2 separate regions of the Homo sapiens genome follow, and region 2 is linked to region 1. The links come from fine-mapping of genetic effects on gene expression. Tissue or cell type: whole blood. Region 1 holds a variant in brackets; the other region holds the start of a gene. All regions are shown on one strand. Distances are from middle to middle.

The links. PIP is the estimated chance that this variant, and not a neighbour inherited with it, causes the effect.
Region 2: CRYBG1 starts here. The variant in region 1 is fine-mapped to the expression of CRYBG1 in whole blood (TOPMed, PIP 0.96).

What each region holds. Positions count from the first base shown.
Region 1 is chr6:106,543,838-106,551,945 of GRCh38, reverse strand. It overlaps CRYBG1 (crystallin beta-gamma domain containing 1), which reads right to left. Exons shown (of 22, transcript NM_001371242.2): 12 at 7,249-7,375; 13 at 7,013-7,158; 14 at 1-94. Among named protein-coding and RNA genes, the nearest start is that of RTN4IP1, 82 kb to the left of the region's middle. The variant G/A (reference allele first, on the strand shown) is at 3,449.
Region 2 is chr6:106,356,035-106,364,142 of GRCh38, reverse strand. It overlaps CRYBG1 (crystallin beta-gamma domain containing 1), which reads right to left and starts at 3,426. Exons shown (of 22, transcript NM_001371242.2): 1 at 3,062-3,426. The coding sequence starts at 3,234. RefSeq lists silencers at 3,316-3,395, 3,416-3,625 and an enhancer at 2,554-3,420.

The sequences.
Region 1 (8,108 bases):
ATTTTTGCCTCCCCAGTCCTCAAAACTGGTATAAAATCCTTTATCCAGTATATACTGTTCTCCTGTGAAGTCAGGATTTTCATAGGCTACCCATCTAAGAAACAAAAGCAATCACTTGTTGGAGTTCATATTTTACATATAAAACGATCACATATTTGGATATCTATGTATCATACAGAAACTTTCATTTGTTTTGCCAATTGAAATTTTAATTTTTCTGATTCTCCATTAACCTTTAGAAGCAGATGGGTTTGTCTATAGGACAAATCAGAATGGTAAGCCAGCAGAGAAGAGGGAACATTTATACACTGCTGGTGGGAATGTAAATTAGTTTAGCTGCTGTGGAAAGCAGTTTGAAGATTTCTCAAAGAACTAAAGATAGAACTAGTATTCAACCCAGCAATCCCATTACTGGGATATACCCAGGGGAAAACGAATTATTCTACCAAAAAGATACTTGCACGTGTCTTGTTTACTGCCACACTATTCACAATATCAAGATGTGGAATCAACCTAGGTGTTCATTGATCAATGGTGGATTGGATAGAGAAAATGTGGTACATATAAACCATGGAATACTATACAGCCATAAAAAAGAATGAAATCAAGTCCTTTGCAGCAACTTGGATGCAACTGGAGGTCACTATCCTAAGCGAATTAACACAAACAGAAAATCAAATACCAAATATTTATGAGCAAGAACATATACTTATGAGCATGTTCTTGCCCATAAGTGGGAGCTAAACATTGGTCATGCATGGACATAAAGAAGAAAAAAAAATAGGCCCTGGGGACTACAAAAGGGGCCAGGAGGGAGGGGGGTTTGAAAAACTACCTGTTGCATGCTATGCTCAGGTTGACGGGTTCAACCGTACCCCAAACTTCAGGAAATCATGCAATATACCCATGTAACAAACCTGCACATGTACCCCCTGAATCTAAAATAAGAGTTGAAAAAAAACTTAATGCAAAAGAAATGGTAAGCGTAAGGGTATCTTGACATGAACTTTTTGGCGTTCTCGCTTATCAAATACTATTTCTTGAGAAAGCTACAAAGGCAATACTTCTCTGTGCTTTTTTTTTTCTAATTGTATTCTAAGGAAACAAAACAAACAGGACTTTCAAGAAGAACCTAGTTCTTTTAATAAGCAATCAATAAGTCCTTTCATTCTCAACCTTAAAATATTTTTGCAGAAAGATCTTAGGAAGCTGTGTCTATTACACAACAAACCACACTGAAAAAGAAGTTAACAGAAGAAATGCTTTTAAAAATGCAGAACAGAACTAAAATATTGTTTCCAACAGTGTTTCCAACATCACATAAATATGTAAAAATTAAATAAACAAAATTGAGCAAACTCATAGAAATACTAAAAATAAATCTCTTTTGGAATGTTTTTTTCTCTTTTAAGTGATCTACACCCAGAGGAAAATCAACAAAACCAATTTAATGATGCTATTTCCTATGCAAAGATAAAGTCTTTGAAAGGAAAAGGTTTTTCAGTTCTGTTATATTAAAGAGATACTTAATACCATTATATTGAAGACATTAAGTATCTTTTCAATTAATTCATCATTCTCATGATCCTCTCAAAGCTTAAAGGAATAATATCTATGTATGTATTATGTAGGGTGATCAGAACTTTGCAAAATGTTTCCACATCTGTTATCACATTTAATCTCCTAGGGAGGTATTGGTGTTCCCATTTTACAGATGGGAAAAACCTAAGACACAGTAAGTTAATTCATTTACCAGGTGCCAGGAACTAGACTGGCACTAGATATACAAAGATGAAAAAGACAAAATCTCTGTCCTCCAAAGCCCACAGATGGGTAAGCAGCATCACATGGAAGTATTTGTTGGTATTTGTTTTGAATGGGAAATGACTTGTCCAGGGTGACACAATCGACTATTGGCCAGAACGTGACTGAACCTACCTGTCCTGAGGCCCACCAGGCTCTCCTTGCTTTGTGACCCAACCTGCCATGTGCCCTGGAAAGTTCCCTTTCATTTACTGTTCTAGTAAACCATGCCTAAAACAGTCCACACACTTTATAATTAGAGCAGATTATGATTTTACTATCCAAAGGGCTGATTTAAACAAAAACTCAAGTACAGTAATTACTAGAATATGAACAGCCATCAAGGAAAAAAAGAACACTGCCAAAATCTCCAGTGAGAAGTAGCTAATAACAGCCAACATCTGTGCACTCACTCCCAGCCATCCAAATGGAGAAGCTGCTATATGCACCACTCAGTCTTTCAGGAAATACAGCCCCCTACCACCCCCCATCCCCCGATTTCAGAACCTCACTAGCAATTTTTAAAACCTGTTCTTTTTTATTTTTATTTATTTTTTATTTTTTTTAGTAGAGTCAGGATTTTACCATGTTGGCCAGGCTGGTCTCAAACTCCTGACTTCAAGTGATCCACCCACCTCAGCCTCCTAAAGTGCTAGGATTACAGGCGTGAGCACTGTTCCCGGCCTAAAAACCTATCCTTTATCACTGAGAGGTGAGGAGATAGGAGACCTGGCTCCACCTGTGGCCATGACATTAACTTTCAGATAACTTTGAAGAACTCACTTAACCTTTGTGAAAGTTTGTATTTTCAAGTGTAAGTAGGAGAGTGGGCCAAGGTCCCCGGGCTGACCAGGTGATGCTGTACAGCACACGGGTACCCGCATGTGCTGCCTCTGCCCACAGGGCCTCAGGCTTTACCCCCAGCATGAAAGGAAGCAACAGTAAAGCCAGAGCAGGGAGCACTGCTATGTGGGAGGAGTGTCTGCACATCAAGAAAATCTACATGACTGGATTAAGAAAATGTGGCACATATACACCATGGAATACTATGCAGCCATAAAAAATGATGAGTTCATGTCCTTTGTAGGGACATGGATGAAACTGGAAACCATCATTCTCAGCAAACGATCGCAAGGACAAAAAACCAAACACCGCATGTTCTCACTCATAGGTGGGAATTGAACAATGAGAACACATGGACACAGGAAGGGGAACATCACACACCGGGGACTGTTGTGGGGTGGGGGGAGGGGGGAGGGATAGCATTAGGAGATATACCTAATGCTAGATGACGAGTTAATGGGTGCAGCACACCAACATGGCACATGTATACATATGTAACTAACCTGCACGTTGTGCACATGTACCCTAAAACTTAAAGTATAATAATAATAAAATTTAAAAAAAAAGAAAATCTACGTTACAAACACTAGGACTTTAAAAAAACAACGAACAATTAAAGAAGTAGAGCCACATCAAAAAAAGGGTTCTCACCAGGGCTCCGAGTCTGTAACAAGTAGAGAGATAAGAGGGTTAAAGGCCTTTCTGTTTGACTTCAAGGTTTGGAGGGAAAAAAGACAGTGAGGTGGGAGGCTGAATGCCAAGGAGAGAGGACAGCCCTGGAAGCAGCTTTAGCCAGTACTCT[G/A]TTCTTTTTACTAACAAGTATGGGTACTGTATTTTCCTATGAAACTAAACTACTTGTAAGTAAATACCCAACACCCAGCTAAGCCTATCTCTAATTCACTGAAGCTGAAGCTGGAAAACAATTTATTAAGATGTTACTTGAACTGACAGTAGTGTTGTTTTCCCTCCAAGATACCTGATGAATCACCCATGAATGGGGGGAGTGGGGGAGGGGAGAAGCCGCAAAACCCAGATCTGAGATTCTCTGCTCTATGATCCGAGAGTCTACTTACAACTTACACTTGGGGCTCTTAAGAAAATCCCTCCCTGTCCTTGTCCAGATGTATTCTGTACACATGAATCAACACTCCTCTGTTTAAAGACTGGTGGGGAGACGGGGGAAAGGCATGTACACAAGTACTAGCAGGTCCCAGCCTGGTGGAATAATTGCTCAGAAGATAAGGGCAGCAGGGTAAACCTGCCCTTCCGTGGAAGGCCAAAGGAAAAAGAATTTAAAACAACAACACTTTTCGTTTTCATCTGAATACCAGAAATATTTCATTTTGCTCCTAGTTTTAAAAAACTAGCCCAGTTTCCACTATTTGAGCAAGAATATAGCATAGAACTAGAAACTGATAAGCAGGGAGTTTCTTTCGACATTTCCAGTAAGAATCAAATGCAGTTCCTAAAAACCTCAGTTGCTGGTTTCATGGGCATCCTTCCTGAAGGCTGTTCTCTGTTTCAGGACTAATGATGAGTTTACTGCCCAGGGGATGTATTACCCATGTGATGGTGAGCCTCCTGGGAGATACTTTCATGGAACAAGAACTTCAGAAGAGTTTTTTTCTGACAATGCATGCCATAATAAGAAATAAAGAACCAAGCTAAAATACTTAATTGCCAATAAAAATAAAGCCATTAAAATACAATAATTTTCCTTTGAAACTATTTAAAGTGAATAGGTAGTCCTCCTCCATCATCTTGGCTCATCTCAGCCTTCCTATCCTATCCCACAGGCCTAACTCCAATGCCACCTCCTCCACAAAGTCTTCCTTCCCTGTGTCCAGACTGGAAATTAATCTCTCTCTGCTGTGGATTCCCAGAGCATTTAATCTGTACCTCTTTTGTAGCAATAATTATGTTTTACATAAATACCGTAACTTCTTTGAGGACATAATACAATGCTTTGCACATAACAGACCGCAATAAATACTTGTCAAATGACAAATCGAACAAAATATGAGGAAGCACCTGGCCCTGGTAAATACAAAAGCCCTTCCATATGCAAAGAATTTCAAAGGAAGTGGTGTGTGTGTGTGTGTGTGTGTGTGTCCACGTATGTGTACGTAGCTCCCTTCAACTTCCCCCTTCTACCAAAACTTAACTGCTACAGCCAGAAAAAAGAAGCTTAAGCCAGGAAATGCAATTAGAAATGACTAAAAATAGAAACATATAATAGCAGCACTTTATAAAGGGAACTGATTTCAAGTAAGCAAGGCCTGGGTTAAAAAGGAAAGGAGATTGGCTCAAGGCACAATAATTCTACCTGTGTTAATAGCATCATCTACAAAATACCTAAGGGAATTCATTCTACCCAGCATCCTTTTGCTTCCTCTGCCAGGGTGGATGACTAGGCTCTGACTAATAGAACCAACACAACTGGTGAGTATCAAAATGTACAACTGTTTCACCAGACTAAGTTGGTCACTATGTTTTCCTCCTAAATAATTAGCTTTAAAGACAATCTAAAATACTGCAGAGCCCCAGCAACATTTCAGATAACTTGTACCTTATATTTCAGATGACTTCTGGCTTTTGCAAACAGGCTACTGATTCTAAAATGTTAGGGCTCCAGAATAGGACCCAAGAGTAGGCATTTCCTGCTGAGAATGGAATACCCGGAAATCACTGATACTCTGCCAAAATGGCACCACATGCAACGGCCTAGACAAGAACTTGTTGAACAAGGTTTTTTTTACTCTATTTACTAAGAGTAAAAGTTAAGCATGTTCATCAACTTTTAGTACATTGTACACACTTTTCAAATATCCAGGGCTATTGTGGGAGGCCCCATGAGATACAATGGGGTTGAGGCTAGGATGATTCAAATAGTCTATGTCACTATGACAACAAAAACCTAACACCAAACACTTTCAGCATAACCAATGTCACATTATTTCATGTAACTATTTGAGAATACTCTCACTTATAACAAATTAGAATAGACATTAGCCTGGATTACAAGAATAATTATGTAACTCCCTATAACAGCCATCTGCTGTTTTTGCCCATCTGGCATCTATCTCCCCACTCTTTCTGATGTCCCTGGGGAACCACCAACCCCATTCATATCTAAGTGGCTCCTATGGGATAGACCCTACATCTCAGCTCTGGAGATGGACACGTAGCCCAGACATGGCCGTCTCTGTGGCTACAGTGATTGGTTCAGGCATGTGCACATGACCCAAGCCTAGGAAAGCAAAGTCAAACATGGAACTTGTGAGAAAGAGAAGCTCTTTCCACTGCAAGAAATGAGCTGGGGCCAGGCATGGTGGCTCATGCCTGTAATCCCAGCACTTTGGGAGGCCAAGGCGGGTGGATCACCTGAGCTCAGGAGTTTGAGACCAGCCTGGGCAACATGGCAAAAACCTGTCTCTAAAAAAAAATACAAAAATTAGCCAGGCCTGGTGGCACACATCTGTGGTCCCAACTACTTGGGAGGCTGAAGCAGGAGGATCGCTTAAGCCCAGGAGGCAGAGGTTGCAGTGAGCTGAGATTTTGCCACTGCACTCCAGCCTGGGTGGCAGAGTGAAACTCTGCCTCAAAAAAAAAGAGTTAGGAGAACAAAAGCTGAATGTGGCCACAGGCCACCAAATGCAAAAGGCCTACCTAAAGTCAAGTTAACACAGAAAAAAGCCCAGTCAAGACACAGAGACTAAGTTCTGATAGTGTTTGATCCGCTGCATCTAGGCATGCCTGAAGCAAAATCTTCTCCAGGACTTTTTAGTTACTTAAGCCAGTAAGTTCCATTTTAATCCCTTGAGCCAATTTAGCTTGGCTTGCAGTCACTTCATCCCAAAGAATCTTGACTAAACATCTTTCAATAAAAACTTGCTTCACCACTAATAAAACAGTCAACTGCTAACTCCACGTACATAGAACAATTATTTTTATGTCAAACTAATAGTGAAGAAATATACTGGAACAGGTGTAGGACCACAGGAAAATCTACTGGGACTTTGACCCAGCCTCAGGTTTATGTTAGATTACTATTATTATTATTTGATCTCCATCATTTAAAAAATTCACTATCTTTCTGTGCAGAATGACAAGGGAAACAGATCTGTAGATTTCTATCATGATACCCAAAGCCTACCCCAAACGTAAAAAGAAGAGATGGTATGAGAACGATTTTTAAAGAGAGTTAACGAAAATATCATGACAGCAACTATTAAATGACTGATTTAATGTTAAGCTGTTGAGATATTTGTGTATTGAATGCCTACTCTGTGATAGACTCTTACCAGTTTAAAACAAACCAAGGTAAAACGCATGTTTAAAATTCCAACTGGATTATTTCACTTACACTCCACTCAGTACATTAATAGACTGTGTCTTCACTCCATATCCAGTCTCCTTTAAATTAGCAACAATTCCCAATACATCAATACTGGAACCTTTGGATCCAAAGTTTTTTTCACTGTACATTATCATGTGAGCATTTGAAAAATCCTATTGAGAAAAAAAATTCAAAATTCAAAGGCTAGCCATTTATTATCCAAAGAAGACCAAGTATTAGCCATTAGCTTGTCCTTTACTTACACCTAATATAGGTCGTAAAGACTGAAGCTCTCCATTGTAACCTCCCCAGGCTTTCCAGTCCCTGTATTCTCCTTCTTCTAGCAAATACTGATGACCGGTAAATCCAGGTTTCTCATATGCAACCCAACTGCAACATAAAGAACACGAGGAGTAGTCATTTCCAGACATGTTAACATTTTTTCAAGGTACATATCAATTTCATTGAAAAATACAAATAGTTATAAAGCTAGACATGACCTTCTGCTTTATTATCATTGGAATTCTTTAAAATTTAGGAGAATAACAGAATGGCCCCAAGAAAATAACCTAAGAGACATATATCAGAGTTGTATAAAAAAGGGAAGGGGAGCGTGTGTGTGAGTGGTGTGTATGTGTGTGTGTTTAATCAGGGCTGACTCAAAAGAACCTCAGCAAGCAAAACTGGATAAACTCACTTCAGATAGTAACAAAAATATTATGAATAGTTAGCGATTTACAAGAGCAACTTTAGTGTGCACTTCTATGGGAAATGTGCAAGATCTATAAGATGCAAAAATATAAAAATCAGAAAGCGAACTATCAAACTGTTCAATAGCTTGGAGCATAATTCTAATAAGCAAGGTTGTAGATTTGATCAACTTGAACAGGCCAATGTATCAGCCTTCCTTGACAGAGTTTCGCTCTTGTTGCCCAGGCTGGAGTGCAATGGTGCGATCTTGGCTCACCGCAGCCTTTGCCTCCTGAGTTCAAGCGATTCTCCTGCCTCAGCCTCCCAAGTAGCTGGGATCACAGGCATGTGACACCACGCTCAGCTAATTTTGTATTTTTTAGTAGACATGGGGTTTCCCCATGTTGGTCAGGCTGGTCTTGAACTCCTGACC
Region 2 (8,108 bases), 190 kb after region 1:
ATGTTGGCCAAGCTGGTCTCAAACTCCTGACCTCAGGTGATCCACCTGCTTTGGCCTCCCAAAGTACTGGGATTAGAGGCGTGAGTGACCGCACCCGGCTGGACTGGTAAACTTTTCTAGGAAAAGATCTTCCTAGAGTTGGTTTTCCCCTATCCAAACCTATCTTTTCCATTTCTTCCATTAGACCTTTGCTTTGATGATGATGATGATGATGATGATGACCAGGATGCTTTTGCATTTACTGAGTTTCTACTTTGTGCTCAGAAGTGTGTTAAGGTTTTTGCACTTAATAACATAAACTTTCATTTAATATTCATGACAACCCTACAGAGTCAGCATCCTATTGTCTCCATATTACAGATGAGGAAATTGAGATTTTAAGAGGTGAAATAACTTGCCCAAGGTCACAAAGCTAGTAGATAAATTCATTTTTTTCTGACCTAAACACCCATAATATTAATCAAATAAGCAAATATGGGTGGCTACCTGACTGTCCCCTCCTTATTTAGAGACAAAAACCACAGTGAGTGCTGCACATTCCAGCCAAATTCCATCACTTCCAAGTCCTGGACAGAAATGAAGGGATATGGTCAGGAGGCTTAAGAGAGCCACACTGGGCAAACTGGCTTGAAATCTAAGGGTGCTTTTGCCACTCTCTTTAAACCAGAAAGAAGTACACTCTCTTAGAAGTAAATGAAATATTTATAAAGATGATCTAACTAGAAAAACATCCCAAAGACAGACTAGTACGTTTAGTTTTTCAGAACATTTATTAATACGAAGTTCATCACGGTTCTGAAGGAAAAAATGAAGTGTTTCAAGACTGCACTAAAATATAAAAAAACTCAAGGAGAGAAGCAAATCTCCTATTTTAATTTTTTTTTTTTTTTTTTTTTTTTGAGACGGAGTTTCGCTCTGTCGCCCAGGCTGGAGTGCAGTGGCGCGATCTCGACTCACTGCAAGCTCCGCCTCCCGGGTTCACGCCATTCTCCTGCCTCAGCCTCCCGTGTAGCTGGGACTACAGGCGCGCGCCACCATGCCCGGCTAATTTTTGTATTTTTAGTAGAGACGGGGTTTCACCGTGTTAGCCAGGATGGTCTCGATCTCCTGACCTCGTGATCCGCCCGTCTCGGCCTCCCAAAGTGCTGGGATTACAGGCGTGAGCCACCGCGCCCGGCCTCCTATTTTAAATTTTATACTAAAATGTATTTACATTTGAATAAATTACCTATAGCTGTGTATTATTATGTTTTGATAGACAGTAAATGATAAGACTAGATCTTAAAAGGAAAACCACGATGGAAATGTTTAAAATATTTACTGAGGTAATAGAAAAGAACTTCAATGTTGGGTACATTAAATACTGTATTTTGTTAGAAAGTATAATCTATAATTAGGCACAGTAAACGTTTGAATAGGTAATATATTTCTACTACAACTGATTACCAATGTGGATGATAAAATATGAGAGAAAAATAAAATGACTTCTTTCTTAGGTTTCCTACCCTTACCCACTCACACCTAGACCTCCCCGCTGCAACCACTTGCGCTTCTCAGGAAGTGCCACGCTCTTCTAAGTGCTGGTGATGTGCACAGTGCAGCCCCTGCCTGGAACTCGCTGCTCCTCCCTGTTTCTGCCTAAGCCACTTCACCTATCCTCCTCCAGGAAGCCTCCCTGATCCCCTCCTGTGTGCTGGCATCTATCATTGCATTTTTTGGTATCCACAAGAGACTAACAATTCTTTGATGACACAATTATTCCTGTCTCTCATTGTTTTTTATATCGCAGTACATGGCACTTAGCTAAGGTACTCAATACAATAAGTGAATGAAAATAGATCGTAAAATTGACTTTTTTTACAAATAAAAGGAGAGGCCGGGCGCGGTGGCTCATGCCTGTAATCCCAGCACTTTGGGAGGCCGAGGCGGGCGGATCATGAGGTCAGGAGATCGAGACCATCCTGTCTAACACGGTGAAACCCCGTTTCTACTAAAAATACAAAAAATTAGCCGGGCGTGGTGGCGGGCGCCTGTGGTCCCAGCTACTCGGGGGCTGAGGCAGGAGAATGGCGTGAACCCGGGAGGTGGAGCTTGCAGTGAGCCGGGATTGGGCCAGTGCACTCCAGCCTGGGTGACAGAGCAAGACTCCGTCTCAGAAAAAAAAAAAAAAAAAGAAAGAAAGAAATAAAAGGAAAACCATGTCTAAAATGCAAATTTTGCACAATTTTATTCTGGCCCTCATAGGGTGTATTTTAAAAACACATTTGGAAGGATTTACTGGACATTGTCAATTGTCCATCACTATAAATATTTCACACCTCTGAGCCATGTAAATACGCTGTTACTTCAAATTGATTATTATTCAACGAATGCATAAACTCTGATGCTATAGTTGAATAATTATACATATAGAATAAAACCACTTCAAAACCATGATAAAAATCAAAAAGCACAATGGTAACTACAGTTTTGATAACTAGGTGCTCTCTAGCTCTGCCACTGGCTCCAATGGGGAGAAGCCATTTATCCTTTGGTCTCAGTTCCTCCACCCATGAAATGGGGGTAACCATTCCTGCCACTTCCTCCTCCCTTCGTATGTTGCGAGGAGAATGGGGGTATAACATCTGTAAGAGCACAGATCTTACAGATATTCACAATAAAGAGCTTTACAATAAAGACACTAGCTCAAAAGCAGTGCCTAACCCCAAAGCAGAGTTCCCGCCATCATTTAGGACGGTAACAACCCTCACTCCCCGCCGCTCTGGTTAGCAGGCTGATGCGGGAGGCTCCTGCATGAAAACTTTGCAGTCATACTAAAGGCCACATGCGTGGGCACAAGTTCCTCTCGCCGGTGCTTGGTCTGAACCAAAAGCCGCGAGGAACCTCGTCAACCCCAGCGGCTACGATCGCTCCCCTCCGGACCCGGGTACCCTCCTGCGGACTGAAACAGACCCCGGGGCTTTCCCCTCCTCCAAGTGGGGTCAGGAGTCCAAGGGCTAGCGCAGCAGGAGAAGGAGGAGGAGGAGGAGGTGGGACTGGAGGGCTCGGGCGAGGAGCTCACCTGGCCTCTCCGGCAGGCGCCGGGAGCGGGTGCGGAACGAACACCCCACAGTCAGGCGGCGCCGGCTGCTGCTTCTTTTTGGAGCGCCAGAGGTGGAAGGTGGTGTGCTTCTTAGGGGGCCTGCACGGGCTGGGCTCCCCGGGGTCGCCCTGGGCTGGCGGGGACAGCGGCATCGTCTTGTCCTCCTCCCGCTCCGACTGCCGGGACGCGGTCCTCTCTGCCGCCCGGGCCCTATGGAAGAACACACCTGAGCGCCAGCTCGCCCGCCTTTCTCAGCGCGCCGTGGGACCCCGCCCCCTCGTCGCGGATGCGGGGGGACGGCCGCGGGTTGCAGAACCAGCACCCAGCGCAGCGCGAGCAGCACTGCAGCCCGAGCTGTTGGGGCGGAGGCGGGGACCCAGCCGCGGAAGAGCGCCCCCGCGCGGCGCGGGCGGCAAGGGGCGCTAGCCCAGGTGAGGCGCTCGCGCCGGGAGCCCCAGGTGAGGCAGACACGCCCCGGCTCCCCACCCCGGGGGCGCGCGGCGGCCGTGGGACAGCGACACCTACTGGATGCTCTGGGCACCGCGACTCCCGACACTGCATCCCAGGCTCTAAGATGGGACCCAGAGCCGGGTCGGGCTTCCACAGCGCCTGGGGTGCAGCGGCCATTGTCGCCTGCGGAGTTGTTGGCCGCTCTTGGCCTGTGACAGGCTGGCAGGGTGAGTCGCTGCTTAGCCACGAGCCCCGCCTGGAGAAGGATGGGAGAGGCACATCCCGGGGCTGGGCCGCCCAGCAATTAGGACTCTTCCACTCTGATCTCTGGGTGGCTTGGGCAATGTCATGTGCTGGTGGCTTCTGTTCCTGTTCGTGAACACGGGTGGCAACTCCGCCAACTCGTCTCCTCTCTCAAGAGTCTGAATAATTAATTTGTACTCACATCTCATAAAACACAAAAGGATTAAAAAAATTAAAAACGCCAGAAGGGAATTAGGCATATTCCCCAATTCCCCAAGAGCTTAATAGATCCCTCGCAGTAAATTAAATGCCAGTCCCACAAGGTATTTACATCATCTGCATTACTGTTGATGACTTTCTTGTCTTAACTTCACAGTCGTGGCTAAATAGCAAAGGAAATTAATACTTAAGCAAAGTAAGTAAACGAACAATTATTTTGGGCATCATTAGAGCAAAGAAAGTGCAAGAACTAAGCACTACTTAAAAATTCAATGCAGTACAAGATCCTCTTTCACGGTAATGTCTTTATTTTCCTCTTTGAAAACACAACTCATTCATTCGTTTATTCACTCATTCAAGGAACATTCATTTTTATTTGTTTTTATTTACATTTTTATCAAGATGTAATTTATAGACAGTAAAATGCACAAATCATAAGGGTAAAACTCAAATTTTTACATATTTATGTGGTTGGGGTGTGAAAAGTTTTTTAATGGAGAGTTGACATTGTCCTAGAAAATTCTTCCGTATGTGGCTTTTAAATGTATGATTATAGGCCAGGAGCGGTGGCTCACGCCTGTAATCCCAGCACTTTGGGAAGCCGAGGCAGGCAGATCACTTGAAGTCAGGAGTTTGAGACCAGCCTGGCCAACATGGTGAAACCCCTTCTCTACTAAAAATACAAAAAAAAAATTAGCTGGGCGTGGTGGTGGAGGTGCGCCTGTAATCCCAGGTACTCGGGAGGCCGAGACATGAGAATCGCTTGAACCCAGGAGGCAGAGGTTGCAGTGAGCCGAGATGGCGCCACTGCACTCCAGCCTGAGCAACAGGATGAGACTATGTCTCAAATAATAATAATAGGTAAATATATATGATTATAAAAATATAGAATACTTTCAAAACTTTAAAAATCTCCCTACTGTCCTCTTCCAGTACATTACCCCTCCCACCTGTAAAAGTTAACCATTATTTCATCCTCTTTTGCTGGAGATTAATTTGACCTTTTCTGGAATTTCATTTTAGTGGAAAATCACAATATGTACTCTGTTTCTGGTTTGCTTTGCTCAATATTAGTCGGTGAAAATCATCTATATTGTTGCTTATATTGTAGCAGTTTTTTGTCTTGTTTTGTTTGAGACAGGGTCTCACTCTGTCACTCAGGTAGGAGTACACTGTTACCATCACCTCTCACTGCACTCACTGCAGCCTTGACCACCTGAGCACAAGTGATCGTCCCACCTCAGCCTCCTGAGCAGCCAGGACTACAGGCACACACCACAGGACCGGGCTTTTTTTTTTTTTTTGGAGGGGGTACATTTGTAGAGACTGGGTTTTTCCATGTTGCCTAGGCTGGTCTCGAACTCCTGAGCTCAAGTGACTTGTCCGCCTCAGCCTCCCACCAAAGTGTTGAGATTACAGGGGTGAGCCCCTGCACCTGACCCATAGCAGTTTTTCATTTAAAAAAATTATTGTATACTGTTCCATGATATGAATATGCCACAATTCATTTATCCATTATTGTGGATGGACATTAGGTTGTTTCCAGTTTGGGGCTATTATGAATAAAATTGATATGAACCTTCTGAGATGTACACATTCATTTCTGTTGGATACTTATACCCGGAAGTTCAATCGTTGGGTAATACAATATGCATATGTTCAGCTTTAGTGAATTCTGCCAAAAAAGTTTCCCATTTATATTCTTTCTAGCATGTTTGAAATTTCCAGTTTTTCAATATCTTCATCAACACTTGATATTAACAATCCTTTTCATTGTGGCCATTCTGATGGGGATGTGGTGGTATCACATTGCAGTTTTAATTTATATTTCCTCAAGAAACAGTTATTGAACTTATTGAGTACTGTACTAATTATGTGCCAGGCCCTGACTTGGGGGAGGAGGCAATGACAGATGCATAGATTATATCATATATATATATATATATATATATATATATATATATATATATATATAAAATCATCTGATATATATATCATGTGATATACATATATATGTACACAAACACACATCAAAGGCTAAAAGAATCAGTGGTGGTATGTACAAGGTATTAGGGGAGTTTAGAAAAGTTACTAACTTAGCGTGGTAGTTTGGAAGGGAGGAAGGGGAGTGGTCAGTAAAGATTTACTATGAAGATGGCCCTTGGATTGAACCTTAAAGGGCAAAGGGAACAGTAAGAAAAGGCAAAGAAAAGGGAAAGGGAAGAAGGGAAAAGAGAAGAAAAGGGGGAAAAGGGACAAGAAGAAATCTTTATGCACACTCAAAAATATTTCTACGTTCAGTAACTTAGTCTTTCATTCCTGGCTTTTCCAAGCAGAATTTTTCACTCCACCCCTCCTTTGTGCCACCAGTGAATCAGAAACATATTTTTGTTATCACACCTTTCAGGTTGCATCAAACTGGTTTACATTTCTATATCTCCTATTAGCCTCAGAGAAACTTAAGAACATTTCTCATTTATTCTTATATTTTCCAGACGCAAATGTCCAGTAAGTAAAGTAAGTAATCAAATGAATTGGTGTACTCACTCAGTTGGACACCTAGGATGTTTCAGACAGGTCTTTTTTTCTCTTTTTTTTTTTAAGAGATGGGGTCTCTCTATGTTGCCCAGGCTGATCTTGAACTCCTGAGCTCAAGTGATCCTCCTGCCTCAGCCTCCCAAAGTGCTGGGATTACAGGCATGAGCCACCATGCCTGGTCTCAGACAGATTTTTTAAATTGTACACTTCATAAGAAAAAATCTTACAAGTCTCTTTTTCTCAATTATGTCCTCAATGACTAGCACAGCGTATGGCGCAGTGTAGGCACTCAACATGTATTTGTTATAAGAGTTAAGAAAGTAGAACTCTGCATAGAAGGATAAGACACAGTACCTGAGAGTAATGTAGTGGGAGAGACAGATACTTAAGAAAACATGAATAGTGAAACTTGGTAAGTGTCCTAACCAATGTGGGTCAGTTGTTGTTTTTCAGTCACTGCAAGAACGAATCCACTCAGACTTATTTAGGCAGTAAATTAACCTACCACGGGATTTTAGGTGGCCCATAGAATATTCGACAGAGCCAAACAGCAAGACTGAAGCCCAAGCATCCTCAACCACTCCAGGTAGCTGTTTTGACAAACACCACTCTTACCATCTCTCAGCACTATGGGCTACATGACAGCCACTCTGCCACTGGCCACCCCAAGGATCAAAGGCCTCTTCACACCCATCTTACCAGAAGATTAATTTCCTGCCTCACACCCATTACCAGCGCATGTATTGCTCACTTCAAGCAAAAAAGTTCCCTGCAGGTACATCTGATTAGAAGAGCCTAAGTTATTTAACTGTTTCCTAGCTACAAGGGAAATTTGGGATCTGGGGCTTCTACCTCAGAGAAATGGAATTCATGTGGCTAAAATTTGCCAAACATAATGGAGGTATTCAAAATAGGCAAGGCAGCCAAAAGTGTGAACAGTGGTGACTGCTGGAGGAATGGGCAAAGGGCTACGGGAACACAGAAGAAATGACTAACTCTTCTGATTGGCTCAAGGAAGTCATCAGCAGGGAGGTGACAGGTTTATGAGCTTAACTAATGCATAAGAATTTGCTAGATGAAGAAGAGAGGGTGGACAGTCCAGGAAGAGTAAACAACATGGGCTGAGGCCCAGGCTTGTGAAAGGACATGCATTGCTGGTGAGGAATAATCAGAAGCTCAGTGATGCTGGAGAAGAGAGGGATGGGGTGGGGCAAAGTGGCAGGAAGTGATTCTGGTAAAATCAGGTATAAATCATGCATAGATGATATATATCAAAGACTAAAAGAATCAGTGGAGATATGTACAAGGCTTTATGGGGGTTTAGAAAAATTACTAACTTAGTCTGTAGTTTGGAAACGAGGAAGGGGAGTGGTCAGTAAAGATTTACTGGATTGCTAAGCACTTGGTAAGTCATGCTTTTAAGGAGTTTGGACTCAGTTTTGTAGGCACCAGGGACCCAGCTTACATTATTAAGTAGAGGAGTGACACGAACAAACTTGGGTTTTATAAAAAGTACCCTGGATGGAGTGAACTAGGAAGAAACTAGGAGAGTGAAACTATTTGAGGGAGACCAGCT